7 separate regions of the Homo sapiens genome follow, and regions 1, 3, 4, 5, 6 and 7 are each linked to region 2. Evidence: fine-mapped expression QTL. A gene starts in region 2. Each other region holds a variant in brackets. All regions are shown on one strand. Distances are between the middles of the regions.

Region 1 (4,062 bases), 40 kb before region 2:
GGGTACCTTGGGAAGCCTATGAGATGCTGCGTGGGGCACTGGCCTCTGCTCTAGGGGCTCACGGAGCCTTCACTTTGCAAACGTGCGGAACTGCCACACACCTAGCACACCTGCCTCACAGCAGCACATGCTCCAGGGCCTCTGGGACCCACAGGATCAGGCCATGAGGCGGAGAGGCTGCAGGCCAACATTGCCCCTTCCAGCATCCCTCAAGGAGCCCATCCCGCCTGCACGCTGCAGCCCCCCGCTCTGCTCCCTGTGGAAGGGCATGGGGCAGATGCGTTTCTGATTTTGGGCCAGCAGATTCTGATGCATGAAAATGGGCCTCTTTTTTTTGGAAAATATTACTTAAAGGTTATTATAAAATAATGATGTTCAGCATAAAATATAGACAGGCCAAAAAAAAAAAAAAAAAAACCAGGAAAAGAAAAACCACCGCAATCTCACCACCCAGGGGTCAGGAGCAACGTGCACATCTTCCGGATAAATACACTACAGTGAGTACCTGCAGCCACACAACCACGTGTGTCCACTCTCCAAATGTCCACCCACGCACGTCTGCTATCCAAATATCCATGGACATACGTCCACTATCCAAATGTCCATCTGAGAGACAGGACTAGCTGGATTTCCTAGGCCGACTAAGAATCCCTAAGCCTAGCTGGGAAGGTGACCACATCCACCTTTAAGCAGGGGGCTTGCAACTTAGCTCACACCCGACCAGTCAGGTAGTAAAGCGAGCTCACTAAAATGCTAATTAGGCTAAAACAGGAGGTAAACAATAGCCAATCATCTATCTCCTCAGAGCACAGCAGGAGGGACAATGATCGGGATATAAACCTGGCAACGGCTGCCCTCTCTGGGTCCCCTCCCTTTGTATGGGAGCTCTGTTTTCACTCTATTAAATCTTGCAACTACACTCTCTTCTGGTCCGTGGTAGTTACGGCTCAAGTTGAGCTTTCGCTCGCCGTCCACCACTGCTGCTTGCCGCCGTTGCAGACCCGCCGCTGACTTCTATTCCTCCGGATCCCGCAGGGTGTCCACTGTGCTCCTGATCCAGCGAGGCACCCACTGCCACTCCCGACTGGCCTAAAGGCTCGCCATTGTTCCTGCACGGCTAAGCACCCACGTTCATCCTAATCAAGCTGAACACTAGTCACTGGGTTCCATGGTTCTTTTCTGTGGCCCACGGCTTCTAATAGAGCTATAACACTTACCGCATGGCCCAAGATTCCATTCCTTGGAATCCATAAGGCCAAGAACCCCAGGTCAGAGAACACGACGCTTGCCACCATCTTGGAAGCAGCCTGCCGCCATTTTGGAAGCTGCCCGCTACCATCTTGGGAGCTCTGGGAGCAAGGACCCCCTAGTAACACATCCACATACGTCCGCTATCCAAATGTCCATCCATATACGTCCACTATCCAAATGTCGAAATATCCACTGTCCAAATACGCCCCATGGGGCGGGATGTGGGATCCTGGGACCAAGCCAGCTTCTCACAAAGGAGGGGGGTCAGGCAGCAGCAGCTCAGGGCAGGCTCAGGGAGAGCAGGAGGGTGGCAGTGGGGGCTGCCAGCAGGCTCCAGGGGCGCCGCCGTCTCTCCTGACCGCCACAGGCTTCCTGGGCCACCTCAATCAGGTGGGCAGGTTCCCACTCACCCACAGGCCTGTTCTGGCAGGCAGAGAGAATGTGCTAATTTGTGGAACAGTAAACAAACAGCCGCACTGCAAACCAACCGCACTGCGTCAGCTGACTTCTGACTCTGGTGGGGAGAAGGATGTGGAGGGCACAAGTGTGGCTAAGCGTGGGGGTGGTGAGGTCTCTGGGTACAGGGGTACACCTCGGAGGTGGAGGGTGCCCCAGCCCACGAGGGGCAGCAGGGCCACCAGGAAGGGCTGCGTGGGGCCCGGCGTCTGTGGTCAGGGTGCGTGCGTGCCGGAGCGGCTGTCGCGCTGAGGGACAGTGTAGAAGCCTTGTCATGGGGCACTGGGGCCCCTGGCACTGAGGGACAGGGCCAAGGAGCCCACTCTAGAAGCCGGTGGGGAGGCCGGGTGCTCAGGAGGCAGTGCCGTAACAGTGGCCCCCAGCCCCACTCCACCCCATCTTCTGCCTTTGGCTGAAAATTCTGGGAACTCCCAGCCTCGGTGTCACTCAACGTGGGCAGCAATGAGTTCCTGCCTGTCCCCTCGGGGTCTCCTCCACTCCCATGGGGCTGGGTCCTACCTGTCTTAAACCAGCCATC[C/T]AGGGTGAATGCACTCTTAGTTTCTTCTGGTTTATTCCAGTATTCTCGAAACACGGAGGGTCCCCTCACCAGCAGCTCCCCCTCCTTTTCTTCAAACCCTGGGGTCACCTGTGGAGGATGAAGAACATGGAGGTCAGAGCTGGGCACACCCTCTTGGGATTGGTGCTTTCTGAAACTGTGGGCTGCTCCCTGCCCACCCAGGGCCCACCCAGGGCCGCGTGCTTTCTGAAACTGAGCGCTTTGTTGGAATGCTTGGAAAACGCAGCTTTGACAGGTGGAAGCCAACCATGCTGAGCTAAGCATTCCCGCCGTCCTCTGTGGGCCCTGGTGCCCTGGCCGGGAGCTGGGTGTCCTTTCATTCCTCCCAGAACAGCCACAGAAGAACGTGCTCCTACCCCATCCTCTAGACTTGAGCATGTTACCGGCCCAGGCCTCAGCACTCAGAGCCTGGGCTGGATTCAGGCAGCCTGTCCACGTCTAAAACCTGTGCCCAAATCCCATCTTCGGGGGCGTTTCTCAAACCAGGGAACACAGCAGCGGGCACCTGTCCACACCTTGCCCACAGGGGCTGGGGCAGCTTGGAGCGGGCAGCGCCCTCCACAGGGCTGAGTGACCAATTACAAGAGGGAAGACTCCGTGGGAAGGGAAGGTGGGGCCTGAGGGTGGAGGGTCCCTGGAGGCCCCTGTTAAGCATGCAGGCACTGCCATGGCCCCAGGAAACACAGCCTCACTGTTCTTCTATTGTGACCATGGAGAGGGCGGGAGGGAGGCTGGGTTATATGAGCCTGGGCTGGGGGTCCCTGCAGCACCAGGAACAGATGGCACGGGAGGCCCTGGACACGGTGGGTCTGTGAAGACACCGGCCGAGCCCTCGGCTCATAGGTCAGGAGGGTCTGGGGAGGGCAGAGAAGGAGCAGGGGCTTCAGATGAGCAGCTGCCAGCTCCACGACCCTCACTCTTCTCTACTGTGAAAGTGACTGGCTGTGACCCCGGAGGTCAAGGGATGCGTACAAGAGTCTCACTGAGGCTCATCACCTGCCATCTGGAATGGACTTCAGAAAACCAGGGGCCAGGGAAGTAGCTGCGAAATAGCAGAACACACTGATCTGATGTGGAGAAAGGGCGCTCAAACGCCGTGGGGCCAACACTGCCCCATGGCAGCCTCTGCCGAGTGTGTCGTCCTGCTGCCAACCCGCCAGCCTGGGCTCCTCCAGGAGGGGCTGACGCCACCCACGGGGGTGAAACACCTGCCCCACATGATGACGGGGCTGCCAACCCGCCAGCCTGGGCTCCTCCAGGAGGGGCTGACGCCACCCACGGGGGTGAAACACCTGCCCCACATGGTGACGGGGCTTTCCGTGCAGTGCCCAGCCTAACTCCTGGCTGCTCAGAGCCTTGTGTTTGTTTTTTCAAAGAAACCACGGACTTTATCTGAATTTCGTGAATTTTTCCACTGCTGTCCTTTATCTGCTCCACTGACGTGGTCAGACTGGCCACTGGTCAGTACACTTGTGGGACATGTAGAGACAGCAAGGCAAAGGCCCTACAAATAAAATGACAATGAGACCAATCCCAGGGAAGGAGGGTCAGACTTTGTAGAGTTAAGCCAACCAAGTCACAGTAAAACAAACACCTCAACATCTTCACAGAATGTCAACAAGACCAAGAATCTCATCCCTAACATTAAAAATATCCAGGGTACAATACAAAGTTACTCAACACGGGAAAAAACCAGAAAAATAGCAACTCATATAGAAAAAGAATACAACAGCACTGAGACAACACAGTTATTGGAATTATCTGAGAAAGACTTTAAA
Region 2 (4,062 bases):
ATTGCATTCATGAGCAGTACATTCAAATAAAAAAAACCAAAAAGGAAAAATACACTTGAAACCCATATCCATTTTAGGAAGAAAAATACTATTTTAAAAATGCCATCTGGAAAGGTGACACTTACAACTATCCCAAGCCCACAGTTTAATCCGCCATTTCTGTCTGCCTTGAGGAGATGGTTCAGAGCCAAAGGAGCAAGAGCAAGGGAAGCCTCATCTTATGTCCTCCAACACCTGCGGAGAGGACACCAGCCTGAGCCAGGCTTCACGCTACAAAGCTCGCAGGGTCCCCAGGGTCCACCGGTAGTAACACCCGTGCTCCTGGGTCCACCATGTGAACCCCCTCCTCAACAAGGTCTCAGCCTTGGGCCCTAACACGAATGTCTGTCCTCCCAGGATGGGAAAGCAACAACTATGCCCCAGACACAATTCGTGTTCCTATCTCTAAACGTGTTCCCTTTCTAGCAAATTCCTAATCATTCTTCCAAGCCCAGTTCAAATATCACCTCTTCTTTTTCAGTTTTATTATTTATTGAGACAGTGTCTTGCTCTGCCACCTAGGCTGGAGTGCAATGGTGCTGTCATGGCTCACTGCAGCCTCCGATTCCTGGGCTCAAGAAATCCTCGTGCCTCAGCCTAACCAGTAGCTGGAAGTGCAGGTGTACGCCACCACACCCAGCTAATTTTTACATTTTTTTGTAGAGATAGGGGTCTCACCATGTTGCCCAGGCTGGCTTTGAACTCCTGGCCACAAGTGATCCTCCTGCCTCTGCTGCCCAAAGCGCTGGGATTACAGGCATGAGCCACTGCACCTGGCCTGCCTGGTGGAATTTAGACTCAGGACAGCAACATCAACTCCTGACTGCACCGGGCCTCACCCCTTTAAACCTTCCCTCTCTCCAGGGAATGGGCTGCCTGCAGTACCTTCCAAATACTTCACGGCCGGCCGCACGTCTCCATTGCTTGCTCATAGATCTACATGCCCTCAGGGGCTAGGCCGGCTGTGAACCTGTGCCCCACGCGCCCAGCAAGGTGCACGCAGCAAACAACTAAAACGGGGAGTACTTCAAGGGTGACTTCTGAAGCCCAATGAGAAATGGAAGTGAATTTATTCCAAACACAACCAAAGACGATTCGTTCTGAGGATGCCTGAACACGGACCCCGCCGGCTCGACGGTATCACCGGGCCCGGCGTCCGCACAGCTTCTCTCCCCGCACCCCGCGCGGGGGCCCCGCTCCCCACCGGACACGAGAGGCTCGGCGTCCCGGGAAGGCCGACGCCCGGCCCCAGGCGGCTCGCGGGGAAGCGACCGCGCCACGGGCCACGGCTCAAGCCCAGCTGCGACCCAGGGGCGGGCGCCGGAGCCCGCGCCCCCGAGAGCTCTGCGCCCGGCCGACCCCGCCGCGGTCCCGTGGGCCCCGCCGCCCGCACCTACGAGACGGCCGCGGCCACGGGGCAGGATCTGCCTCGCCACAACTCTTCCTCGTCCTCCGCCGCGCGCGCGCCGGGGTCGGGCCGGGTTCCGGCCGGGTCCCGCGGGGTCGTGAGTCGGGCCGGACCAGTTCCGGCGCCCAACAGCTTCCCCGGCGCGGCGCGTCCGTCGCCCAAGCGCGTCCCCCCGGCGCGGCGCCGTGGCGGCGGGTTCCGGGCGCGCGTGTTCCCCTGTCCCGCCCGTCCCGTCGTGGCGGGGTCGGGGCCGCGGGCGTCTCGTGAGCCGTGGCCGAGGCAAGGCGCCGTGGTCTCCGCTAGCCCAGGGCTGCCCAGATCAGAACGGCGCGCGGGACCACTCCCAACGCGGATTGCTGGGCCTCGCCCCGTCCTCCCAAAAGGGGCTCTCTGGGCTTTGCGGCTGGGGGTCTGCACGCTGAGCTCCTGGGTGATTTTATTATTATTATTATTGTTGTTACTTTTTCTTATTATTATTATTATTTTGAGATGGAGTCTCGCTCTGTCGCCCAGACTAGAGTGCAGTGGTGTGATCTCGGCTCACCGCAACCTCCGCCTCCCGGGTTCAAGTGATTCTCCTGCCTCAACCTCCCAATTAGCTGGGACTACAGGCGCCCGCCATCATGCCTGTCTAATTTTTGTATTTCTTGGGTGATTTTAAACGGACCGCATTTGAGAATCTCTCCTCGAAGGGACTTGGGAACCAGGATACGAATATGAAGCGAGACTGTTGGATGGACAGTGGCGGAAAACATTTAAAGCCAAACACAAAGTCCAGTTGGCTGAAATTTGAGGGTTTTTCCCCTAAAATGAATACTAATAACACAAAGACATGTACTGGCAAACAGTAGTACAAATTATCTGCAGAACCGTCCTGGTGTGATGGCTCACGCCTGTAATCCCAGCACTTTGGGAGGCCGAGGTAGGCAGATCACGAGGTCAGGAGTTCAAGACCAGCCTGACCAACATGGTGAAACCCTGTCTCTCCTAAAAATACAAAAATTAGCCGGGAGTGGTGGCAGGTGCCTGTAATCCCAGTTACTCGGGAGGCTGAGGCAGGAGAATCTCTTGAGCCTGGGAGGTGGCGACTGCAGTGAGCTGAGATTGCGCCACTGCACTCCAGCCTGGGCAGCAGAGTGAGACTGTCTCAAAAAAAAAAAAAAATTATCTGCAGAACCTTGCACAGTTTTTTTGTAAGTGTATTATTTTCCATGCCCATCTTCCTCTCTTGTGATGATTGCTGGGGCAGCAGTTGTGTCCTTGGAAAGCTCAGGAAAGGGCACTTCAGGAGCCCGAGGATGGTTTTCCTGGGAGGAAGGAGCTGGATCTGGGGGAAGTTTGTAACACAGAGCGTGGGAGAACAAACCCAAACTTCTAGTGCCTCTGGTTGCCACCCTGCTAGGTATCATGCAGAAAAAGCAAGTCCAACCCTCTGCCACTGGGACAGGCTTGATCTGGTGTCAGAATTCTGTCTGCTTCCAGGACTCAGCAGGCTGAATGGTGTTTCCGACGAGGGCAGTAGGAAGAGTAAGGAGGGCGTCTAACATCAGGATTCAGCCCCAGGACGTGTGTGCGCAAATTTCTATCCCTGGGAAGTTGAAGAGCTCAGGCTGCGTCACCCACCTAGAGACAGGACTTGGGACAGGGTGACAGCTCCCGTGGTCCTTGGCCATGGCTCTGTGAGGGTGGCAGTGGGGGGAGGGTGCAGTCTCCGAGAAATGGCCCAGTCATCCTATGAGCAGGGGTCCCATCTGTGCCTCGGCTCTGGTCAGCATCATAGTGGCAGGTGGGAAGCAGGAGCAGTCAGGGATTAGCAGACATTGGAGGACAGCCTCTAGCCAGAGAGACGTGGGCTGAAACAACCAGCAGAACAACTGCAGGCAGCCAGGCTGTGCAGAGTGAAGAGACCCCCAAAACCACCCCCTGTTAATACCCTCAGGGAGACAAGGGAAGCGACAGCCCCCATGAGTCCAGAGCGAGATGCCCCGAGAAAGAGCGTTCCAGTAACATAAAGGGGGGCTGGAGGGGTCAGAATACAACAGCCTGAGTAAAAACCCTAAGGGAAGGGCTAAAGGACGTCTCCTAGAAATAGAACAGAAAGACCGAGAGATGAAAAACAGGAGAGGAAAGATAAAAAAATCAGTGGGCTCAGGCAGGCATCCAATATGCTAAATACGGTAGTTTCAGGAAGGGAGGGCAGAGAAAACAGAGAGAAGTCAGCTGTCAGGTAAACTCGTGGACATTAGCAGACGAAGGGCTGCAGAACATCCAGCGCAGGGAGTGAAAGTGGCCGCACCAACCAGGCAGACGACGTCAATGTAGTTTAGAACATGTGGACAGGGAGGGTCCTAAGTGCCCACCTGGCATCTCACTGGGACATCCAAGAGACATCAGACCCCGATGTGGCCCCAGAGGAGCTCAGGTCTCCCCCGCAGCAGCGCCCCCACCCTCACACTTTGCATCTCACCCTCGATCCTGGGGTTCAGTCTATGGCTCCCTGCTTCCCTCCCACACCACATTGAGTCCTACTGGTTTCTCCTGCAAATTCTGTCAGAGACTGTCCCACCAGCGCTGCTGTAACCACCCAGACCAGGAAAGCCTTGTTTCCTAAAGGA
Region 3 (4,062 bases), 52 kb before region 2:
TCCTCCCTCCTCCCTCCTGCTCCGGCCATGTAGGATGTGCCTGTTTCCCCTTTGCCTTCTGCCATGACTGTAAGTTTCCTGAGGCCTCCCCAGCCACGCTTCCTGTATAGCCTGTGGAACCATGAGCCAATTATACCCCGTTTCTTTATAAATTAAAAAAACAAAAGAAATTACTGTAGGTGAAACTAAAAGCTTCCTTTCTGAGCTCAGCCTGGCTCTGCCCTGACGGTCCTATGGGATACCCTTCCGTCCTGACGGCCTTTGACAAGGCCATAGCTCAGGTTCAGCCCTGGGCGTGACCACCACCACTGCTGGCAAAAGTGGAGGGTCTGTGGATCCCATGCATCAGAAACCACTGGGGGTGAGACAGGTGGGAGAAAGTCCTTGGGGAAAGGTTCTGGGTAAGGTAAAGGCAAAACAAAAAATGCAGGTGAGTTTAAGGACTGGGTGGTGGCCACCGCTGAGGAACAGGCCCTGCCCTGGACATGGAGGGGAAAGTGAAATGACTGAGGGGATGGTGATGGTGCTGGGGTCTCCGTGGAACTGACTGGAGGTGTGTGAGGCACCTTCAGGACCCACCCCCAGGGCAGGAGAGGGAGAGGCCGTGCAGGTGCCGACGGAGAATGGGTGGGCCTTGCAGTTCTGCTGGGGCCCAGCACTGGCTTTGGGGCGGCAGGTGGACAGGCTGCCTGTGGCCTGGCGGGGAAGGGCCCAGCGCGTGCGGCCAGCTGGTGTCAACCCTGGATCTCAGCTCCATGCACCTCCTGCATGGGCCTGGCCTGGCTCATCCGGGATCTCTCCTGGGACCAGGACGGAACCCACCACAGGCCGTACAGGGCCCTGTCCCAGGAATGTGAGTTTCTGCCCCCTCGGAATATTGCCACCAAGTCAAATCTGAGCACGGCTCCTGCCCCCTGCCCTCGTCTCTACCTGCTGTGTGCGGCCTTCAGGTCTCTAAGGACCCTCACTGCTGGTCTTTCTTGATCCCTCATCTCCACCTCTAAGACGGACGATGCCAATACCTAGGGTGGCCCTCAAGACTGGACCCCCAAGACCCCATGAGTGCTCCCTGCCCGCCCCACCCAGCCCTACCTGGCCCACTCTTTGAGCTCCCTGTGGGACAGTGAGTGTCCTTCTCGGAGGGTCACCACAGCAGTGACCCGCTGGCCCCATGTCATATCCGGAACTCCAATCACAGCCACATCTGCGGATAGAAGAACAGTTTGAGAACATGGGGATGCCTCAGTGACCCTTACAGGCCGAAGAGTGCCTGGACACACAGGAAGAGCGCAGTCTGGCCGCAGCCCTGGAGCCCGTCCTTGGACAGGCCCCACTCCAATCACTCGTCCTGGTGCTGGCTGGGCCTGTGGGGAGGGGAGTGAGGACGGGCTCCCCACGGTGGATCTGGGGACTGGGCACTCACAGGGGCTCTGCCTTCCCGCCCCTTGGCTCTCTGCACTCTCCCTGCCACCTTCCTGCAGGGGAATCATGCAGATGGGAGCTGCGCCCGGCCAGGCCTGGGAGCTCTGGTGGGCACGGGGTCAGTGGCTCCAACACCGAGCAGGCTGCACCCCCACTAGCCCCATGTTCCCTGGCCAGGGCAGGGACCAGAGGTGAGCATCACAGGGACCCCTGCAGGCAGCTGGGACGGCGTCGACTCATCTGCAGTCGTCTAAAACTCAAACATGGAAGGCAGCACCCGTCTAGCCTGGCCTCCCTGGCCCAAGTCCGGCCACGCACCTGTGATGCTGGGGTGGGCCAGCAGGTGCCACTCCACCTCCAGGGCGCTGACCTTGTAGCCTCCAGTCTTGATGATGTCCACTGAGGTCCGGCCTCGGATCCAGTACTGGCCATCCTTAAACACCACGGTGTCCCCTGAGGAAAAGGGGCTCTGGTTAACTGGCCATCCTTAAACACCACGGTGTCCCCTGAGGAAAAGGGGCTCTGGTTAACTGGCCGTCCTTAAACACCACGGTGTCCTCTGAGGAAAGGGGGCTCTGGTTACTACCCTGTGGCAACCCCAACGGAGAAACAGCTATGCCAGGTAAGCCCACATTCCTGGTGGTCACGACGTGCGTCCCAAGGTGGGACTGTGCCCATGATGTGGGGTCTGCCCTTCCTGTGGGGTCCCTTCCCCATGCTCAGCTGTATGCACTTCCTCCAGGGGCAGGTCAGCAGTGGGTCCAGAGCCTGCCAGGAGCAGGAGGTGCCAGAAGCCCTGCTGGGCCTGTGGTCTGCAGACACCCTGCATTAGGAAGCCGGCTCAGGCCCTGTTTCTGTGACAGTGATTGATAACCACTGGCCATGGGTGGGATG[C/T]GTGGCCTTTTCTGAGCAACAAGCACAGGGTCTGATGCTTTACCCTCCCTCAGGATGGGTGCCAGGGTGTGCTGGGCCTCCTGGCTGTGCTGCTACTGCTGCAAGGGCCCCCAGACGGAGCCCCTGGGACTGCAGCATAGAGGGGCCGCCCCTCATGCAGGCAGGCTGCTCTGGGAGAGGGGCCGAGGCCCACCAGGCCCTGTCCTGCCATTTCTCTCAGGCCCACAAAAGAATCCAGGCCAAATATTCAGTAAAAGAAGTGAACCAGACACATTACAACATCCCACCACGGTGGGCTCCAGCAGTGAATGCCCAGCCCCTCTGGATGGGAGAGGCACCAAGGCCCACGCAGAGGCCACAGGGAGGGGCTGGTGGCTGAGGAGGACAGGGCCTTTCCTGGGTGCCTGGAGCCTCCTGCTGGTGCCCATCTTGTGCCCTCCACACCTGACCATGCTGGTCCTAGAACAATGGCCGGGGCTGCCCCACGTTTTCCTTCCTAAGGCAAAGCCACGACGTGGCCCTTGCTCCTCCCCGTGCAGTTCCTGGAGCTCCTGTGGGAACCAAGCTTCCTTCGTTTTCTTCCTTTCTCGAGTAGCTCAACACAGACACCACCAGCCACTGAGGGTGGGGAGTCGGGAAGAGCGGGCTGCAGCCTCAGAGCCTGTACTCCCAGCCCGAAGCTGTCTCATGACGCATGGGCCCATAGTGTGCGTGCCTGCGAGCGTGTGTGCAGCTGGGAGGGCGCGGTATGCGTGACTGTGAGCATGTGCACGCACACATGTGTGCCGTGGCTGTGGGAGCATGCAGGGCATGTAAGGGCAGTGCTGAGGCCTCAACTGTCTGCTTCCACATACCCTGCACTCCACATGGGTTATTAGCTGGAATAAATCATAAATACTTCATTATACATCATGCTGTTGGACGCAGAAAGGCCCCATCCATCCACCTCACCACTCCTTGAGACCCATGGCGTGCTCCTCAGTCTATTAAACAAGACGGATGGGTGTGCCCAGGTGGGCTCCAGGCTTATTTATGGAGCTCTGGAACTCTGGAACTCTGTGCTGATGGGTAGCAGAAAAACCAGAGGCTCCCCGACAGGAGAGTGGTCTCACTGCGCCCCTGGGGTAGTCTGGGCGGCTGGAAGGGGGTGTGCAGGTTGGGCTGTGGGCGGGGTTGGACACAGCCTGTCCCAAGTCCCGTGGGACCCGCCATGGCTCCTGCTCCTGCTGTGCAGCCTGGCTTGTGTGTCCCCTCTGGACCAGACAGCCACCAATCTTCCAATAGCATCTCTTAATCGCACCGAGCCACCCCGTCCAGGCTGCTCCTGCCCCACGGATGCCACAGCTGCTGACACCAGGGAGGCTGCCAGGTGCTCAGGGCCCTCCATACAGCTTCTGGCCTGGCTCCACCCTGGCCTGCACCACCCAGAGACCCAGCGCAGCATGGAGCCACTGCCCTGCTCTGGTCCTGCCGGAGAGGCCATCACTGCCTGCCCCCAAGGCTGACAAGTCCCCGGCACCCTCTTGAGCTGCCTGTGTCCTGGCTCCAAGGATGCACCACAGTTACTCACGGGGCTGAGGCTGCACCACAGCTACGCACGGGGCTGAGACTGCACCAAAGCTACGCACGGCACTGAGGATGTACCACCGTTACACACCAGGCTGATGCTGGGAGAAACTGGGGGGACGGCACAAGGAACCCCTGTGTGTTATTTCTAATTTCCTGCGAATCTTTTTTATAAGTTTT
Region 4 (4,062 bases), 540 kb after region 2:
CAGGCGGCCCAGCTGTGCCCTCCCGAGCAGGTGAGGCTGGCTGAACCCTCTGGGTTTTCCATCCTTGCCTGTAAGTAGAGCTGAAAACAGCACTTTCGCCCAGGTGCTAGGAAACGAGATGCTGTGTGTAAAGTGACTGGTGGCTGCCTGGCCTGGTGGTAAAGGTCCCGGAAATGGGTGACTGTGTGAGTCCAGGCTCACACTGCTCTAAAGAACTACTGGAGACTGGGTCATTTATGAAGAAAGAGGTTTAATTGGCTCACAGTTCCACAGGCTGTGTAGGAAGCATGGCTGGGAGTCCTCAGGAAACTCACAATCATGGTGGAAGGTGAAGGGGAAGCAGGCACGTCCTCACATGGCGGCAGGAGAGAGAGAGAGAAAGTGGGGGGCGGGGGAAGTGCCGCATAGTTTAAAACCATCAGATCTCGTGAGAACTCACTATCTGAGAATAGTGAGGGGGAAATCCACCCCCGTGATCCAGTCACCTCCCACCAGGCCCCTCCCCTAACCTTGGGAATGACAATTCGACATGAGATCTGGATGGGGACACAGAGCCAAACCACATCAGTGGCTTTAGGGAGATCTGAGTAGCAATGAAGGCATGGCCCGCTTGGGAGAAAGTGTCTGCAGGAAGCGCCTTGTGAATTCTGCGGTGCTCACCATGGGCTGGGCGGGTTTTCAGTGGGGGCAGCAGGGCCTTGGAGATGGGGCCACACTCTGGGGAACCCTTTGGGTCGGGGAGTGAGCCCCGCTCTGTCTAGACATAGGCAGTCCCAGCACAGCAGAGGGCGGTCCTTAGGTCCGGAAGGGGGCACAGTCAGGCGCGAATTCTGGGCCCTGAGCTGGGGCCATCATCTCCTCCCGAGAGAGAGCACAGGTGCCATTGCAGGTGCTGCTAGGGTGCTGCGTGCCCTCCGAGCTTGGCGACGCTCCACTGAGCTGTGTGAGTCTCCGTCCTGGGCTCCGTGGAGACCAGGATGATAATAAGATGAGGACCAGTGGCTTCCAGGAGCCCCAGTCTTAGAGGTGGAGACAAAGAGCTGTGGAGGGGCTGGGGGTGGAGAGGAGCCAGGGGGTGGGCAGAGGGGGTGGGGATGGGGCGGGAGGCATGGAAGGGGCAGGGGAGAGACGAAGGGCCACTGGAGCCACATTAAGACAGAGGGGAAGTGTTAAGACTTGGAGCTGAAAATGCTGGGAATTAAGCGGAAATTCTGCTAAAAGTTTATGGTAACACACTGGGATGGGGGCCGGGTGCAATGGCTCATGCCTGTAATCCCAGCACTTTGGGAGGCTGAGGCAGGCAGATCACTTGAGGTCAAGAGTTCAAGACCAGCCTGGCCAACATGGCGAAACCCTGTCTCTACTTAAAACAAAAAATTAGCTGAGTGTGGTGGTATGCGCCTGTAATCCCAGCTACTTGGGAGACTGAGGCAGGAGGATCGCTTGAACCCTGGAGGCGGAGGTTGGAGTGAGCCGAGATCGCCTCACTGCACTGCAGCCTGGGTGACAAGAGTGAAACTCTATCAAAAAAAAAAAAAAAAGAAAGCCAAAAATGCTGAGAATTAAGGCAAAATTCTGCTAAAAGGTTATGATAACACCTGGGATGGGAAAGGTCAGGCGTGCAGGATGAGGCCCGAGGGAGAGAGATGCCCCTTGCTTGGCGCCTTGCAAGGCTGGAGGAATGGGGCCGTGGGGAAGGGCGGTGGCCCCTGGCTCAGACAAGGGTTCCCTGGTGGAGGGTTGGCAGCTGTGGGAGGGAGCGGGGAGGCTGGGAGCTGCAGGGCCTCCCTCAAAGCCAACCAGGCCTTTGGCGCCAGCATGGAGGGGCTTGGACCAGCCCTGGAAGGGGAGTCCTTTGTCCCTGTCTCCCTGCCTCCCAGCTGCCCACTGCCCATCCCTGCTCAAGAGAGGAGGCGGGAAGGCTGTGTCAGGGAGGCCCAGCTGGGCTGGGGGTGGGGCCGAGGTTGCTGCTGCGGGTCTTCAGATGAGGACTCGAATGCTCCCAGGGGCCTGGCTGAGGCGGGACCAGCGGAAGGAGTAGGGAGGAGGGCTGGGACAGAGACTGGGTCCCTGAGATACAAGGCAAGGGCAGGGGCCTGGTGTGAACTCGCCCATAACCTCCAGGTTC[G/A]AGTCTCTCCTCCTGAGTGCTCCAGACCTGACCCTTGCTCTTCCCTTGGGACCCCACTGGCAAAAGGGACTTTGCAGATATGACTGAGTTAAGGATCAAGAGAGGGGAGATGACCCTGGATTATCCGGGCGGGTCCCCCTGAACCACAAAGGTCCTCGTAAGAGGCGGGCAGCAGGTCAGAGAGGAGAGGAGAGGCTGCCCTGCTGGCTCTGAAGATGGAGGAGGGGCTGAGAGCCAAGGAACGCAGGCAGCCTCTGGAAGCTGGGAAAGGCGAGGAACGGATTCTCCCCGGAGCCCTTCCAGGAGGAAGCAGCCCTGCCCACACCTCAGTTTTAGCCCTGAGAAACCTGCGTTAGCTTCTGGCCTGCAGAACTGTGAGAGGATGAAGCTGTGTGGTTTCAAGCCACTAACTCTGGGGTTTTTTGTTCCAGCAGCCACAGGACCCTCGTCCAGAGACCAGCACCCCAGCCTGACCGGGGCTTCCTGGTGACCTGCCCAGGCTCCCACCTCTCTGCTAGCTGGGGCTGTAAACATTTTATACTTGTGATGAGGCCACCAGCAAACGCGGAGGCCTTCCTCCGGCGGTGACCCAGTGATGAGCCTGGGCCGATGTCCCCAGGCACACTGGGGTTTTCACAGAAGCAATAACATCTCTGTCATTTTTTTCCAGACCTCACTGAAGATCCCCCTACCCCAGGCTCAAGTCAGAGAGAGAGGAGGTGGCAGTGCCGGAATTTCAGCTGCGCATCCGTCCCAGCTCTGCACTGCGGGCGTCCGTCCCAGCTCTGCACTGCGTGCGTCCCGCCCTGGCTGGAGCTTGCAGACGGCAGCCCTGCAGGAACCCACCGGGGCTGACTCCTTCCTCCCCAGATCCCACAAAACAGCAGTGGATCTCCACTCGGCACGCATTCCCCTCTACATTCACACGAAGTGTCTTTTAATGGAAAGTGTATAAACTCGTTAATTTTGGTTACTGCACTGAAGTTAGGCAAGCTTCTGCAGCTTTATTAAATGACCAATGCTGTCCCTCCTGAGTGTGAAATTAACTCACTTTTCCTTTTTTTTTTTTGGGGGGATGGAGTCTTGCTCTGTCACCCAGGCTGGAGTGCATGGTGCCATCTCAGTTCACTGCAAGCTCCGCCTTCCGGGTTCATGCCATTCTCCTGTCTCAGCCTCCCGAGTAGCTGGGACTACAGACGCCCGCCACTGCGCCCGGCTAATTTTTTGTATTTTTAGTAGAGATGGGGTTTCACTGTGTTAGCCAGGATGGTCTCAATCTCCTGACCTTGTGATCCGCCTGCCTCAACCTCCCAAAGTGCTGGGATTACAGGCGTGAGCCACCGCGCCTGGCAGATTAACTCACTTTTCATGGCAGGTTTGAGGGAGACAGAGAAAACTCTTCTCTCACCTGAAACCGTGGCTTTGAGAAAAATAAAGTAGAACGACCGTGGCTCTTGGGAGCACTATCTGAAGGACTTGGCAAAATGTTTCCTCTTAGTGGCACCTGTGATGCCAGGTCTATGAAAAGCCCAGGGAGCCCGGCTGGCACCACCTCTGTGGCGTCCTGTGGGCCTCTGGCCATGCTGTGTCGTGGGAGAAAGAGCCGCCACGCAGCTGTGTCTTGGAGGAGCCTCCCCGCTGCTGTCAGAGGTGCAGCGTGCACTTAAATAGCAAGAACCCAGGTGCAAAGCCTTGAGGCCTGGGGCTCGGTTTCTACCCCTGTGAGGTCCGGGGCTCGGTTTTTGCCCCGTCACACGTGACCACCAGCCGGGAGGTGGGAGGCTTAAAACAACAGAAATTTACTCTCTCAAAGCTCTGGAGGCCACAAATCTGAAACCAAGAGGTCTCAGGGCTGCCCTCCCTGCAGGGCTCAGGGAGGCCCCTTCCTGCCTCTCCAGCTCCTGGCTGGTGGCTTTCTCGCTGTCCGTTTTCAT
Region 5 (4,062 bases), 78 kb before region 2:
ACCCCTCACTTGTAGAAGGCCCTGATGGGCCCACGCTGCCTGCCTGGGGGCTCACCAGGAGGCGGCCCAGGACCCCAAGGCTGCCCAGGAGAGCTCACAGTCCTGAAAGCTGAGCTGCTGGGGGAGGGGCAGGCAGGGTCCTGACACTGACATATTTTGCCTCACAGTGGAGTGAATTTGAGCCTTGGCGATAGTCCCCTTGCCATCTGGCCCCCACCTCCACCACCTCCCCCAGCCTCCAGCTGTCGGGGGAGGGGGTTATTGTCCCCCAGCCCTGGGCGAGAAAAGAAGGGACAGTGAGAGGGAAGGCTTCTGAGGAGGGAGAGGTCCTGCCTGCCTCCCCACCTGCCACAGAGCCCCCTGGGGCCTTTTGAAAGGCAGACACTCCCAAATCCAAAGGAAGAGGTCTGGAGGAATGTTTTCACAGGCGCCAGCCTCCCCACCACCATGCCCTGGGTTGGGGTGCCAGGGAAGAAACCCTGTCCCCAGAGCAGGTGGGGAAGGGCCCTGGAGGCATGGAGCCCCCCAGCCTGCGCTCCCCGGCAGAGGGCTGAGGGGTGGAGGGCCGGGGGGTGAGCACGCATGCTGAGCCACTGTCTCCCCCCACCACTGTCTCCAGATGGGGGAGTCGGGGGTGGCAGGAGCCGTGGTGCCCTCAGGGGCAGCTGCTGGAGGGTCTGGCTGGCCAGGCGCCTGGTCAGCTGCCAGGGGCTGAAATTGGAGCCAGCTGGAGCTGGGAGGCCTGTGGGAATGAGGGGACTCAGGAAGCCCCTTCAGTGGGGGCTGGGAAAGGAGTGGCTTCCCTTACTCACTGTGTCCAGCACTCCCTGACCACCCCAGGACCACAAGAGCAATGAATACTGTGAGCACCGCTAAGCCCTTTATGTGCATTCTCTCTCGAATTGGCCAGAGAGAGGCTGCCCTCTTGTACCCAGTGACGTCCCAACCACAGCCGGCCATGCCCCAGCCCAGCCCAGTCCCTGGGGGCTGAAGCCACTGAGGCCACATCCTCCATGTCTAGGTCCCCCTAGGGTGTGAGGAGACGTGGCTCCAGCTAGGCAGTACCCATGTCGGGTGTGGGGGGCTGAGGCCTGGGCTTCCTTCCACTCTGGCTTGCTCCCACGTTGGAGAGACCACGGTGCCAGCAGTCCAGACAAGATTTTTAGGGGCAGAGTCCAGCAGCCTCTGGGGGCTGGGCCCCCAGGCCTGATCACCCCAGGCAGCTGCGGCAGGGTCCCAGGTGAAGCCCAGGAACAGAGCCCCCAGGGCTGCCACACGCCACTCTGCAAGGCCGTGTGTTGCGACCTGGCTCGGGCTGGGCCCTCCCAATCGAGAAGTAGCCGTGAGGGTGAGTTCCTGGGGGCAGGGCCTGCAGCCACCCCTGCTGGCCAGGAACTTGGGGTGGGGGGTTTGGACAAAACCCAAGACTAGCCAGGGGTCCTGTGCCCACCGCAGGGAGTCCCTATAGAAACCTGGCCCCCAGCCCCCCAGAGAGGGGCACTCCTGCCGCTCCCCCCTCTCTCTGCTCCACTCAAGACTGGCAACCCCCAGACCCCGGCAGCGGTTCCTCCAAAGAGAGGGCACGGCTACCTGGGTGGCCCCTGCCTGGGGTCCCTGACCCCAGCAGCACTCTGCAGTCCTGGGGGTGATTCCACCAGATGGAGTGTTTGGTTACACTCACTCCCCACAACCCCTGGGGTGCTGCCCCCAGCCCAGGGACCCACCCGGAGCCACTCCGCTCACAGGCCCCCAAAGGCGACCAGGGCCAGTGGTTCTGGGGGAGACCTGTGCGGCTGCAGTTGAAGACACTGTCCCGCAGCGTCGAGGGAGGCAGCGGGGACCCCCGCAGGTGCCGATGCCTTACCTGGGCCAACAGCCCGAGGACGAGGAGGAACGCGGCGTCCATCGGGGCCGAGGCGGGAGCCGGGCCGGAGTGCACCCGCGACCCGAAGAAG[C/T]GCGTCCAGGCTGAGTGACAGCGCAAGTGCGCGGGGCGGGCCAGGGCCAGAGACAGAGACAGCACGTGTGAGGGGGGCGGGGAGGGGGCGGGGCAAGGGCTGAGTGACAGCACGAAGGAGGCCTCTGACGGGCCGAGGGCCGGCCTGGGCAGGGCTAAGGCTGAGTGACAGCGTGTTGGCAGGCGGGTGGGGCGGAGCCTCTGGCGAGCTAGGGCGGGGCGCAGGCTGAGTGATAGCCCGTGTGCGAGTGGGGCAGGCGGGGCGGGGCCGGGGCCGAGGGCTGAGTGACAGCGCAGGTGCGCCGGCGGGGCGGTGACCGCACGAGGCTGGTGGGGCGGAGCCAGAGGAGGATGGGGCGGGCGGGGCGGGGCCGAGGGCTGAGTGACACCTTGTGAGAGTGCGGGGTGGGGCCGGGGTGGGGCCGGGGCGGGGCCGAGGGCTGAGTGATAGCTTTTGCGGGGTTCCGGCGGGCAGGGCCAGGGCTAGGTCGGAGATACCCCGGCTTGCTGCGTTGGGAGCAGAGCCAGAGGCCAGGCTGTGGGGAAGGCAGGGTGGGTGCGTCCGGGTCAGGGACCAGCTGGGATTCCTGGCTTCTTCATTTCCTGCTCCTTGGGCCCGGCTCGCCCCTGCTCCAGGGAATCTGCATTGTAGTCCCTGCCGGGGGACACCTCTTGAGCACTTCCTTGGGCCCCTCGCCTCTCTGGCTGCGTCTCCTGCGCCTCCCCGCATCCCACTGAACGCTAGGCCCGCCTTCCACGCACCTCCTCGCGACCTCATTTTGCCCAGCTCTTATTCAGTATGGAACTGCTCTGGTTCACACGCCTCTGATACCAGCGTGGCTCGTAGGACACCCCCAATTCCCCCAGTCCACGCACCTCCTCCAGCATCCCCTTGTTCCCCGAGGCCCCCTGCCTGGAGCACCTTCCTTCCTACAGAACTCCTTCTCATCATCCCTCAACACCCAAGGTCAACGCTGCCGCCTCCTGGAGCCTCCTTGCCACCTCGGCCAGAAGCCCTCCCTCCTGTTGACTGTGGCACCTGTTCTCCCCTTCGAGACCCCGCCCCCTGGGATGGTGTGGGTGTGGCTCAACACCTGCACAGGCCCAGCGCACGGTCAGGAAGGTCCTGGAGAGGGGGTGGAGGGGGCTGGAGGCAGGAGGATCCTTTCTTTTGAGCAGGCAGGGTGGGGAGTGGGGGTTGCCGACCAGCCCAGGGCCGGGCCGGGGAGCCCGTTCCTCTCTGTGATGGGAGCAGACCCGGTACCTCTGCTCTCCTGTCGACGGCGGGTGGCTGTGCAGGTGCAGGCAGCATCTGTGCACTTGGCCTGCTTGAAAGGAGGCCAGGCTGCCCGGGAGGCTCAGGCCAGGACTGTCCCTAGCGCTCACTGCTCCAAGATGAGAGAGGGCAGGGAGTCCATCTCCAGACTGGGAGGCCTCTGGGGCTGGGGTGTAGCCTGTTGGGGACCACCATCCTGCCTCTGTGGTCAGTGACCTCAAAATAGGGGTGGAGAAGCCCTCTGAGTGCTTTTGGTTTTCATCCTCACGGGACTAGTGCAGGGGTGAGGTAGAAGTGCTCGCCCTCCCCCCAGAAAGAGGTCTGGGGAGGCTGCGGTCTGCCAACCCCAGCTCCTCTCCGCTTCCACCCTGCACCCACCTCGCTTCAGCCACCTGCCTCCCACCCACCTCGGGGAGAAACGGAGGCCAAATCCCTCCTCCATGGGATGTGGGGGTCTCTAAGGGAAAGGCTAAGCTGGGCCAGGTCCTGGGTGAGCCCCAAATGCAGGGCGGGGCCAGGGAAGCAGCCGGCTTAACCACTGCGGGAGGGTGTGCTCCCTGGCTGGCGGGCTATCCCCCAGGGGCAGGTGCCCCCGCGAGGGACCCCGCTCCACATGCTCCCAGGGCAGCAGGAAGGTCAGGAGGCAGGAGCCTGGGTCCAGTCCCAGCTCGGAGCCTTGGGCTGGAGGTTCTCCCCCGTGCCTCAGTTTCTCCTTGTGTCAGAGGTAGGTGGCAGGGAAGGGCTGGGTACCCTGAGTCTGGAGGTCCTGTGCAGTGGGGGCAGGGGTACATTTTCGGCTGCAGGACCATCAGCCCTAGAAGAGCCCTTCCCT
Region 6 (4,062 bases), 79 kb after region 2:
ACCGTGCTGGGTGTTGACCGTGCTGGGTGTTGACTGTGCTGGGTGTTGACTGTGCTTGGCTGTTGACCGTGCTGGCTGTTGACCTTGCTGGCTGTTGACCGTGCTGGCTGTTGACCATTCTGGGTGTTGACTATGCTAGCTGTTGACTGTGCTGGCTGTTGACTCTGCTGGGTGTTGACTGTGCTGGCTGTTGACTGTGCTGGCTGTTGACCATCTGGCTGTTGACCGTGCTGGCTGTTGACCGTGCTGGCTGTTGACCATGCTGGCTGTTGACTGTGCTGGCTGTTGACTGTGCTGGGTGTTGACTATGCTAGCTGTTGATTGTGCTGGCTGTTGACCATCTGGCTGTTGACCGTGCTGGCTGTTGACCATGCTGGCTGTTGACCGTGCTGGCTGTTGACCATTCTGGGTGTTGACTATGCTAGCTGCTGACCGTGCTGGCTGTTGACCGTGCTGGCTGTTGACTGTGCTGGGTGTTGACTGTGCTGGCTGTTGGCTGTGCTGGCTGTTGACCTTGCTGGCTGTTGACCGTGCTGGCTGTCGACCGTTCTGGGTGTTGACTATGCTAGCTGTTGACTGTGCTGGCTGTTGGCTGTGCTGGCTGTTGGCTGTGCTGACTGTTGACTGTGCTGACTGTTGACTGTGCTAGCTGTTGGGCTTGGTGTTATAGGCATGTCTTCCCTATTTAACATTTACATTTTTTTAAATTAAAAATGATGTCTTCTCTAGGCCTCTCTAGGCCCTACCTCCAAGAATGGGGTTTCTGCTCAGCGATGATCCTGGAGTGTTAATTGGGGCAGACAGGCCCTCCTCAGCCCCCTGCTCCTGCGTGGAGTTCGCCTCCCCACAGCCCCCGTGCCCCAGGACCAGGCGTTTGTTGTGCAGAGTGTGGGATGCCAGCCCCGGGCAGGGTGCAGGGGGCCTCGGGCAGGGTGCAGGAGCCTCGGGCAGGGTGCGGGGAGCCTCGGGCAGGGTGCAGGGTGCAGGGAACCCCGGGCAGGGTGCAGGGTGCAGGGAGCCCTGGGCAGGGTGTGGGGAGCCTCGTGCAGGGTGCAGGGAGCCTCGGCAGAGTGGTTCCACCTTGGCAGCCAGCCTTGCTGAGGTCCCTGCACTCCTTGCTGTGAGCAGCGGCTATGTCTGCTGGGCTGGGCCCACCGCCTGTTAGGTCTGCCTCCTCCAGCTCCCAGCCCAGGGGTGAAGCCACCTGCATACAGCCGTGGCAGATCTGAGAGGGGTGCTGCAGGGGAGGGAAGCAGCTGGGAGCCCAGGGAGGAGGCAGCAAGTTCCCAGAAGCCCATCGGGGAAGGCTGCTGCTGAGGTCAGGCACCAGCCACCAAAGCCGCCATCCCCCTCCTCGTCCTCCTGCCGAGGTCAGGCACCAGCCGCCAAAGCCGCCGTCCCCCTCCTGGTCCTTCTGCCAAGGTCAGGCACCAGCCGCCAAAGCCGTGGCCCCCCTCCTCATCCAGCCCCTGCTAGTGGCCTAGGCAAAGACCCCTCAGCAGCACCTCTGGCCTTAGCTCGGGAACCAGCTCTCCAGGACCCAGCAGAGGCCACCTCCTGGCGGGGGGATGCAGCCTGGGCCGTCCCTCAGCTCAGCAAGGAGGGCCCCAGGCAATGCTCTGTAAAGAGGGGGCGGCACTAGATGGGGTCTCCAGGTGTGACCTGAGCCACCTGACTGCCACCTGACCCACCTGGGCTTCACATAAATTCAGATGCCCAGGATCCATCCAGCCAGACTGGGCGGGGTCAGGAAATGCACATGTAACAAACACCCCGGCTGGCCCATGTGCTCACCAGCTGACGGTTTCCACGCCAGAGGGTCTCGAGGCGGCCCCTAGCCAATCCCCTTCAGGTGCTCTCATGGAATGTGGCTTGACTGGAGGAGAGCAAGACTGGGTGTTCCAAAGGGGGCCTGGGGCCCTGGGGAGCCCCAGCAGGTGGGAGAGAGCGGCTGGGAAAGAAGCGGTGACAGACGTCCCCGGTCCAGCGGGGCAGGTCCCAGGAGAGCGTGGCCTGGTGGCCCCGGCTTTGCAGCCACTGGGCGCTCCCACAGTGTTGGGGGCCAGGTCTGGCCTCCTTT[T/C]TCCACCTCGAAAGTGCAATCAGGAAGACTGCAGACTGCACAGGGCAGCCCAAGCCTTCCCTGCAGTCCCAGCATCCCCCCACTCCCCACCCCCCACTGCTCATTTTTAATTGGATTTAATTATTTTCCATTTAATTGCATTTTTTAAAGCTCTCCCCAGTGGGGCTCTTGATCTGAACATCCCTCACCTCCCCTCCCCTCCTCTCCCCTGCCCTCCCCTCCCCTCCCCTCCCTTCTCTTCCCCTCCCTTCCCTTCCCCTCCCCTCCCCTCCCCTCTTCCTCTCCTCTTTGGAAACGAGCCTTGGCCTCAGCGGAGAAGTGAGACAGGGCTCCCTCGGGACCTGGGAAGTGGGGGTTCTCCGCCCTGGGGTGGGGGCCTAGAGCCTGGGGGTGTCCTCGTTCACCAGCCAGAGTCCCCTTGGGCCTCCACAGCGTCTGTCTCCCCACCTTCCATCCTTGCTGCCCCCACCCAGTCCCATCTCCCCATCGACTCCTGACTGTCCTTCCCCACTCCTGCCAGATCCAGATGTGATCACGCCGCTCTGTGGAGAAGCCTTCCTGACCCGAACCCCAGCCTGGCACAGAACTCCCATCTGGCCCCTTTTCCTCCCCAAATGCAGCCCTGTCCTCAGCTCCAGCTGAAGGTGGACCTTCCTCACTCTTTCTCTGCCTGCACACCCGCCCAGGTGCTCACCTCTCCCCGCTCACCCGCCCAGGCGCTCACCTCTCTCCCCTGCACTCCACAGCCTGCATTCAGCACACATGTGGACGCACTCGGGAGACACTGGGCCCCCGGCGCTGCGACCACAGGGATTTGCTGAAATTCCCATGAAGAGGTGGAGGTCCCCCTCCTGAGCCTGGGTGGGCGTCTGATTTGCTTTGACCCACAGAACGTGGTGGAAGTGGTGTCCTGCCCTAAGAGGCTGCGTGGCCTCCACCTCTGCCCTCGCGCAGCCGCCCAGAGAACCCCATGGAAGGAGCTGCCGGCTGCCTGTAGGAGACCCGAGGGGCGCCAGCTGCCATCCCCAACTGTCAGCCCAGGAGAATGGCACATTGCTGTTGTTTGAAGCCACTGAGATCTGGGTGTTTGGTTCCACAGCAAGTTAATGACACACCTGCCACTGCGAACAGCACCTTACCTTTCAGACTCAGCCAGATCTCCCCCAACCCCCTGCCCAGCAGCTTCAGCCCCCACTTCCTCCTGGTCCCCACAGAGCTTCAATCAGTCTCATGGCTGAGGCCAGATGCCCTCATCCTCCTTCAGCAGCTTCTGATATCGACCAGGTGGAATTCAGGCTGCCTGCGAACCAGCATCAAAGCCATACCCATCGACAGTGCCTCTGTCCCCGCCTCCTGCAGCCCCAGCTCCAAAACTCCATGCCCTGAGTGTCTTCTCATTCTCCACCCCTGCTGGCTGCACCTGTCCTGCCCACGGAATGTTCTTCACCAACTTCCCATCCAACAAATTCATCCAAGACCCGGATGAACCCTCCCTTCTCCTGCAGACTGTGACCCAGCCACAAGCCCTTTCAGTTTAGATTGTTACTCCTCTTCTTGTTTACGTGGCTCAGCCACCCAGTGGCTCACTTCCTTGCAGCCCCTAAACAGAGAGACGTGCCTGAGCACCCCCCTGCACTGTAAAACTGGTATACAGAAGGAGTCACATAAAGAATGAGATGGGATGAAAAGACACACAAACCCAGGTGCTAATGTTTTTACTTCCTGCAGCCCCCAAGATGCGTTCACCTCTGCCTGATTTACTTCTCTACCTCATGGGATTGTGTCCTGCAAGCCCCCAAGATGAGTTCGCCTCTGCCTGCAGCTTCACAATAGATTGGAAACTTGAGGTAAACATGACCTGTGTTTTACTGTTGTGCTTCCCAAAGGCTAGCAAAGTGCCAGTGCATGTGGCACCAGCTCAGCAAATACCTGTGCATGGATGGACAGGTGGATGAATGGGTGGGTGGGTGCATGGAAGGGTG
Region 7 (4,062 bases), 25 kb before region 2:
TACCTTGGTCCCCCTCTCGTCTCCCTCTGCGTGGATGGTGTAGGAGCAGGCTTCCCTCTGTGGGTTTTCTGAGACAATGCGCACCTGTACTCCAGGCAGTGGGGTCCCCACGGAACCTACAGGAGAGGAGAAACACTGAAGGGGAGGCTGGAGTGAGAGGAACCTGGAGGAGAGAAGCACACACTGAGCTCGGATCCCGCTGAGCTCCCGTGTGCCACGTGCGGGAGTCTGTGTGGAGGGAGCGACGTGCCCTGTGACCCAGAGAGAAGATGGTGTAGGCACCAGCAGGTGAAAAGCCACACGATACGTGGCTGGCAAGCACGGTGTGCTCAGGCCCAGCCGATGCCACAGTGATGGCCATGTGGCACAGCAGGCACTCACGTGGCACGCTGGGCCTGGCCTGCCCTGGGCCCCTCATACATCACTTTCCCAGTTACTTCCCAAAGCCTCACAGCTGCCCACAGATTCTGGTGTCATTCCCACTTTTACACACTTGCTGGCCAGGGAGGGCTGGCGCCTTGCCCTGATGGCCCCGGGGCTGTCCACGATGAGGGGACCTGTGTGTGCCCGGCACACGACGGGCTAAGGCAGGATCTGCCCTATGTCCCCAGGAGGGGCTGTCCTGAACTCTGCATGGCAGGTGGACCACACTTTGTACTGGCTCATTTATTAGACACCCATGATTTGCTCAGTGTATCCATCCCACCTGCACAGTCTCAACGTGGCTAAAATCATATCTTACACTGGCCGGGGTGGGGGCAGAGCCCAGGTGGCGAGACGTGTCCCGCCGGCACACGCAGGGCTGCCGCAGCCTCGCTCTGCCTGTGGTTTAGGTTGCTGGTGGGACGGCAGAGGCTGCTCATGGAGTGCGGCCCTGGCGATGTGGCGTCAGCACGGGCATGACCTAGGGGCAGAGCAGACGTGGGACTTCCTGTCTATCCCGGGGCGTGAGGCCTTTGCCCTGGCCTGCGTCAGGGGAGTGCCTGAACGCTTATCATGTCTGAGTCCACGCTGAGATTTCCGGCACTTCAAGGGTCAGCATCGAGGGTCAGTGCAGTGAACTCTGCAATCCATGGGGCGTCCCGGCCTCCAGACGCTTGGTGAGGGGCTGTCGGTGCCCGGCTCGGTCTTGCTGATCCTGCTGGGCCTGTCCACACCTGGGGTCCTGCAGGCGAAGCCGGGCTAGTGTGGTGTGCGGAGTGTCACCTCGGGAGTTCTCTGTGGTTCCAGGTATGCAGACGCCCCGAACCTCCACTCTGGTCAGAAACCCGTGTCACCACTATGGGGGGTGTGGCGGGGCCAGCTTCAGCCCCCTTTCTTCCATCCTTTCTCCTCCTTTATGTTTTGCTTCTGAAGATTTTTAAATGGGGGTGAAACCCGCATAACACATGACTTCCCATTTCAGTGCGCGGCACGGCGGTGTTCCGCACACACATTGCACAGCCCCCCACTTCCCCTAGTCAGAACTCCCGCACAGCCCACGACCGCCACACCCTCCCTCCCCAGACCTGGCACCAGGTCTGCTGTCCGCGTCCGTGGTTTTTCTGTTCTGGGCGTTTCATAAGAAGAGGACCATCACAGGCGGCCTTTCGCCTCTTCCTGGTGATGCCTCTACTGGGGCGGGGACGCAGCGCAAGGACACGGCACGGCTGGGGTAGGGGCGGGGGCCGCAGGTGGGGAGGCCGTGTGGCCGTCCCACACCATCTGCAGAGGCTGAAGAGGCTCTGGGATGGTGTCTGGATTCTGCAGCAGCCAAGCAGTGGTATTGTCCATGAGAGCTCAAGGAGTGGCCCCCACACTCCAGGTGCCGCCCGTGAGAGCTTCAGGGAGGGGCCCCCACACTCCAGGTGCCACCCATGAAAGCTTGAGGCAGGGGCCCCCACACTCCAGGTGCCACCCGTGAGAGCTCGAGGGAGGGGTCCCCACACTCCAGGTGCCGCTCGCTGTGCCCC[G/A]GGCATGTGACAGTGTGGACATGAGAGCTCAAGAGAGTGGACAGAGGCTGGCCCCGCAAAGGCCAATGTAGATGGGAGCGCAGCTGCAGGCAGGTGGGGGGCACTGCCTTCCTGCCACAGCCCACCTCTAAAATCGCTGTCAGCCAGCCCCTCCCTGATAACTCTGACTGGGGACTGGGACCCAGGGAACGGAAACCGCCAATGAGGCCCTGGAGCTCCCTGTCAATGCCACAGAGTGGCCCAGGAGCCGTGAGCACCTCTGAGCTCAACCTCCAATTAGAGTGTGACGAGGCCCAGCAGTGGTCGGCCATGAATTATTCATCTCCCTCCACAGGAACCGCACGGAGCAGGCCTGTAACCATAACACACGACAGAGCTCACCCTCCACCCAGCTTCTCTCTCTTCCGAGCACGGACAGTGCACTGAGCAGCGAGGCCAAGCATGAGCTCAGAGCCTGTGGCTGGAGCCGACCCAAGGGTCAAGGCCATGGCCACCAGGGTGGGGGTTAGAGCCTGAGAGTGAGGAAAGCTCTCCTCCACCGTGCCCTCTAGAAACATGGCTCAGGAGGCTGCATTTTGGAGTTTTTGTGGGGCATATTGGATTTAATGCTGAGGTGACTTTACTTACTTTTTTCCAAACCAAAGAACTCACACTGCTGGTGATTTAAAGGCAAGGATAAAATCACAGATATTTGATTCTGCCTTAGAGAAGAGGGAGCGTCCCCGGCGCCCCAGGGAAACTGCCGTATGCTCTGCCTTAGAGAAGAGGGAACATCCCTGGCGCCCGAGGGAACCTGCCGTCAGGCTCTGCCTTAGAGAAGAGAGAGCGTCCCCGGCGCCCGAGGGAATCTGCCGTGGGCTCTGCCTTAGAGAAGAGAGAGCGTCCCCGGCGCCCGAGGGAACCTGCCGTGGGCTCTGCCTTAGAGAAGAGGGAACGTCCCTGGCGCCTGAGGGAACCTGCTGTGGGCTCTGCCTTAGAGAAGAGGGAATGTCCTTGGCGCCTGAGGGAACCTACTGTGGGCTCTGCCTTAGAGAAGAGGGAGCATCCCCGGCACCCGAGGGAACCTGCCGTCGGTAGCTGAAGACTCGGGGATTGGTGCACTCAGGTTTCTTGCCCAATAACCCTGAAGCTTCAGGGTCTCTGGATCCCCCTCCTCAGCCGGGGACTCCTCTCCCTGTGCCATCTGTCTGGGGCTCCTTCCTGTTCGCCTAGGAGTTCTGATTCCAGCGTGGGGAAGCTGAGCCTCCCCTGGGTCTCTGGGCTACTATCTGCTCCTTGGCGCCCTCGGTGTGGACGGCGGTCCCTGGGCTGCTCCTTGGCGCTCTTGGTGTGGACGGCGGTCCCTGGGCTGCTCCTGACGCTCTCAGTGTAGACAGTGGTCCCTGGGCTGCTCCTGACATCCTCGGTGTAGACAGCAGTCCCCGGGCTGCTCCTGACTCCCTGGGTGTAGACAGTGGTCCCTGGGCTGCTCATGACTCCCTCGGTGTAGACAGTGGTCCCTGGGCTGCTCCTGATTTCAGCTTCTCAGCCTTGTATCTGTTCCAGTAAAAAAGGCTAGGGGGGCACTGTCCATCTTCTCTAGTGAGGGCCATTGAAGAGGTCACCGTGCTCCTGGGAAGTGCATCACTCACCAGCCGCGTGACCGTGGGCAGGCTCATGGGTTCTTGTATGTGAGTGCAAAATATGACCCCATCGCAGGGGCTGTTTCGAGAAGATCAAAAGAGAGGACGCCCACAAAGCAATGCTGTGGATGAACAGTCATCATGAACTACAAACTGTGCAGACAGATTCTGAATACACAGAACTTGTCCTGCTCACATGTCCGGAACAAAGAGAGGACAAAGCCCAGAGCCCGTTACCCTTTCAGTCCTCACTTGCCTGCAGCCTGCAGCCTCAGCGAGCCGGGCTTTGCTCATTCCGTCCATATTACGTGGTGACTGTGGCCGGTGGCACTGGACAAAACCAGCACATCCTACTAAGAAGGACAACGATAAGGACAGAGACTCAACAGACCAGTCACATTTGATTTCAAGGTCCCCATCTTATTTCCACCAGAGAGCTTTAGCCACCGAAGAAACAGCTGGTGCCGCAGCCATCGTGGAGATGCGCG

What was found. PIP is the estimated chance that this variant, and not a neighbour inherited with it, causes the effect.
Region 1: its variant is fine-mapped to the expression of ACSF3 in whole blood (TOPMed, PIP above 0.99).
Region 3: its variant is fine-mapped to the expression of ACSF3 in blood mononuclear cells (TOPMed, PIP 0.99).
Region 4: its variant is fine-mapped to the expression of ACSF3 in breast (GTEx, PIP above 0.99).
Region 5: its variant is fine-mapped to the expression of ACSF3 in monocytes (TOPMed, PIP above 0.99).
Region 6: its variant is fine-mapped to the expression of ACSF3 in sun-exposed skin (GTEx, PIP 0.97).
Region 7: its variant is fine-mapped to the expression of ACSF3 in whole blood (TOPMed, PIP above 0.99).

Annotation. Positions count from the first base shown.
Region 1 is chr16:89,131,427-89,135,488 of GRCh38, reverse strand. It overlaps ACSF3 (acyl-CoA synthetase family member 3), which reads right to left. Exons shown (of 11, transcript NM_001243279.3): 8 at 2,227-2,353. Among named protein-coding and RNA genes, the nearest start is that of LINC00304, 26 kb to the left of the region's middle. RefSeq lists an enhancer at 521-1,420. The variant C/T (reference allele first, on the strand shown) is at 2,246.
Region 2 is chr16:89,091,367-89,095,428 of GRCh38, reverse strand. ACSF3 (acyl-CoA synthetase family member 3) reads right to left here and starts at 1,577. Exons shown (of 11, transcript NM_001243279.3): 1 at 1,433-1,577. RefSeq lists an enhancer at 794-983 and a silencer at 1,404-1,813.
Region 3 is chr16:89,143,080-89,147,141 of GRCh38, reverse strand. ACSF3 (acyl-CoA synthetase family member 3) reads right to left here. Exons shown (of 11, transcript NM_001243279.3): 9 at 1,741-1,875; 10 at 1,093-1,204. Among named protein-coding and RNA genes, the nearest start is that of LINC00304, 14 kb to the left of the region's middle. The variant C/T (reference allele first, on the strand shown) is at 2,317.
Region 4 is chr16:88,552,799-88,556,860 of GRCh38, reverse strand. No RefSeq gene overlaps it. Among named protein-coding and RNA genes, the nearest start is that of ZC3H18-DT, 7.2 kb to the left of the region's middle. The variant G/A (reference allele first, on the strand shown) is at 2,129.
Region 5 is chr16:89,169,676-89,173,737 of GRCh38, reverse strand. It overlaps CDH15 (cadherin 15), which reads right to left and starts at 1,990. Exons shown (of 14, transcript NM_004933.3): 1 at 1,865-1,990. The coding sequence starts at 1,906. RefSeq lists a silencer at 1,915-2,554. The variant C/T (reference allele first, on the strand shown) is at 1,956.
Region 6 is chr16:89,012,686-89,016,747 of GRCh38, reverse strand. No RefSeq gene overlaps it. Among named protein-coding and RNA genes, the nearest start is that of CBFA2T3, 38 kb to the right of the region's middle. The variant T/C (reference allele first, on the strand shown) is at 2,081.
Region 7 is chr16:89,116,855-89,120,916 of GRCh38, reverse strand. It overlaps ACSF3 (acyl-CoA synthetase family member 3), which reads right to left. Exons shown (of 11, transcript NM_001243279.3): 7 at 4-116. Among named protein-coding and RNA genes, the nearest start is that of ACSF3, 25 kb to the right of the region's middle. RefSeq lists an enhancer at 2,102-2,396 and a silencer at 2,102-2,396. The variant G/A (reference allele first, on the strand shown) is at 1,953.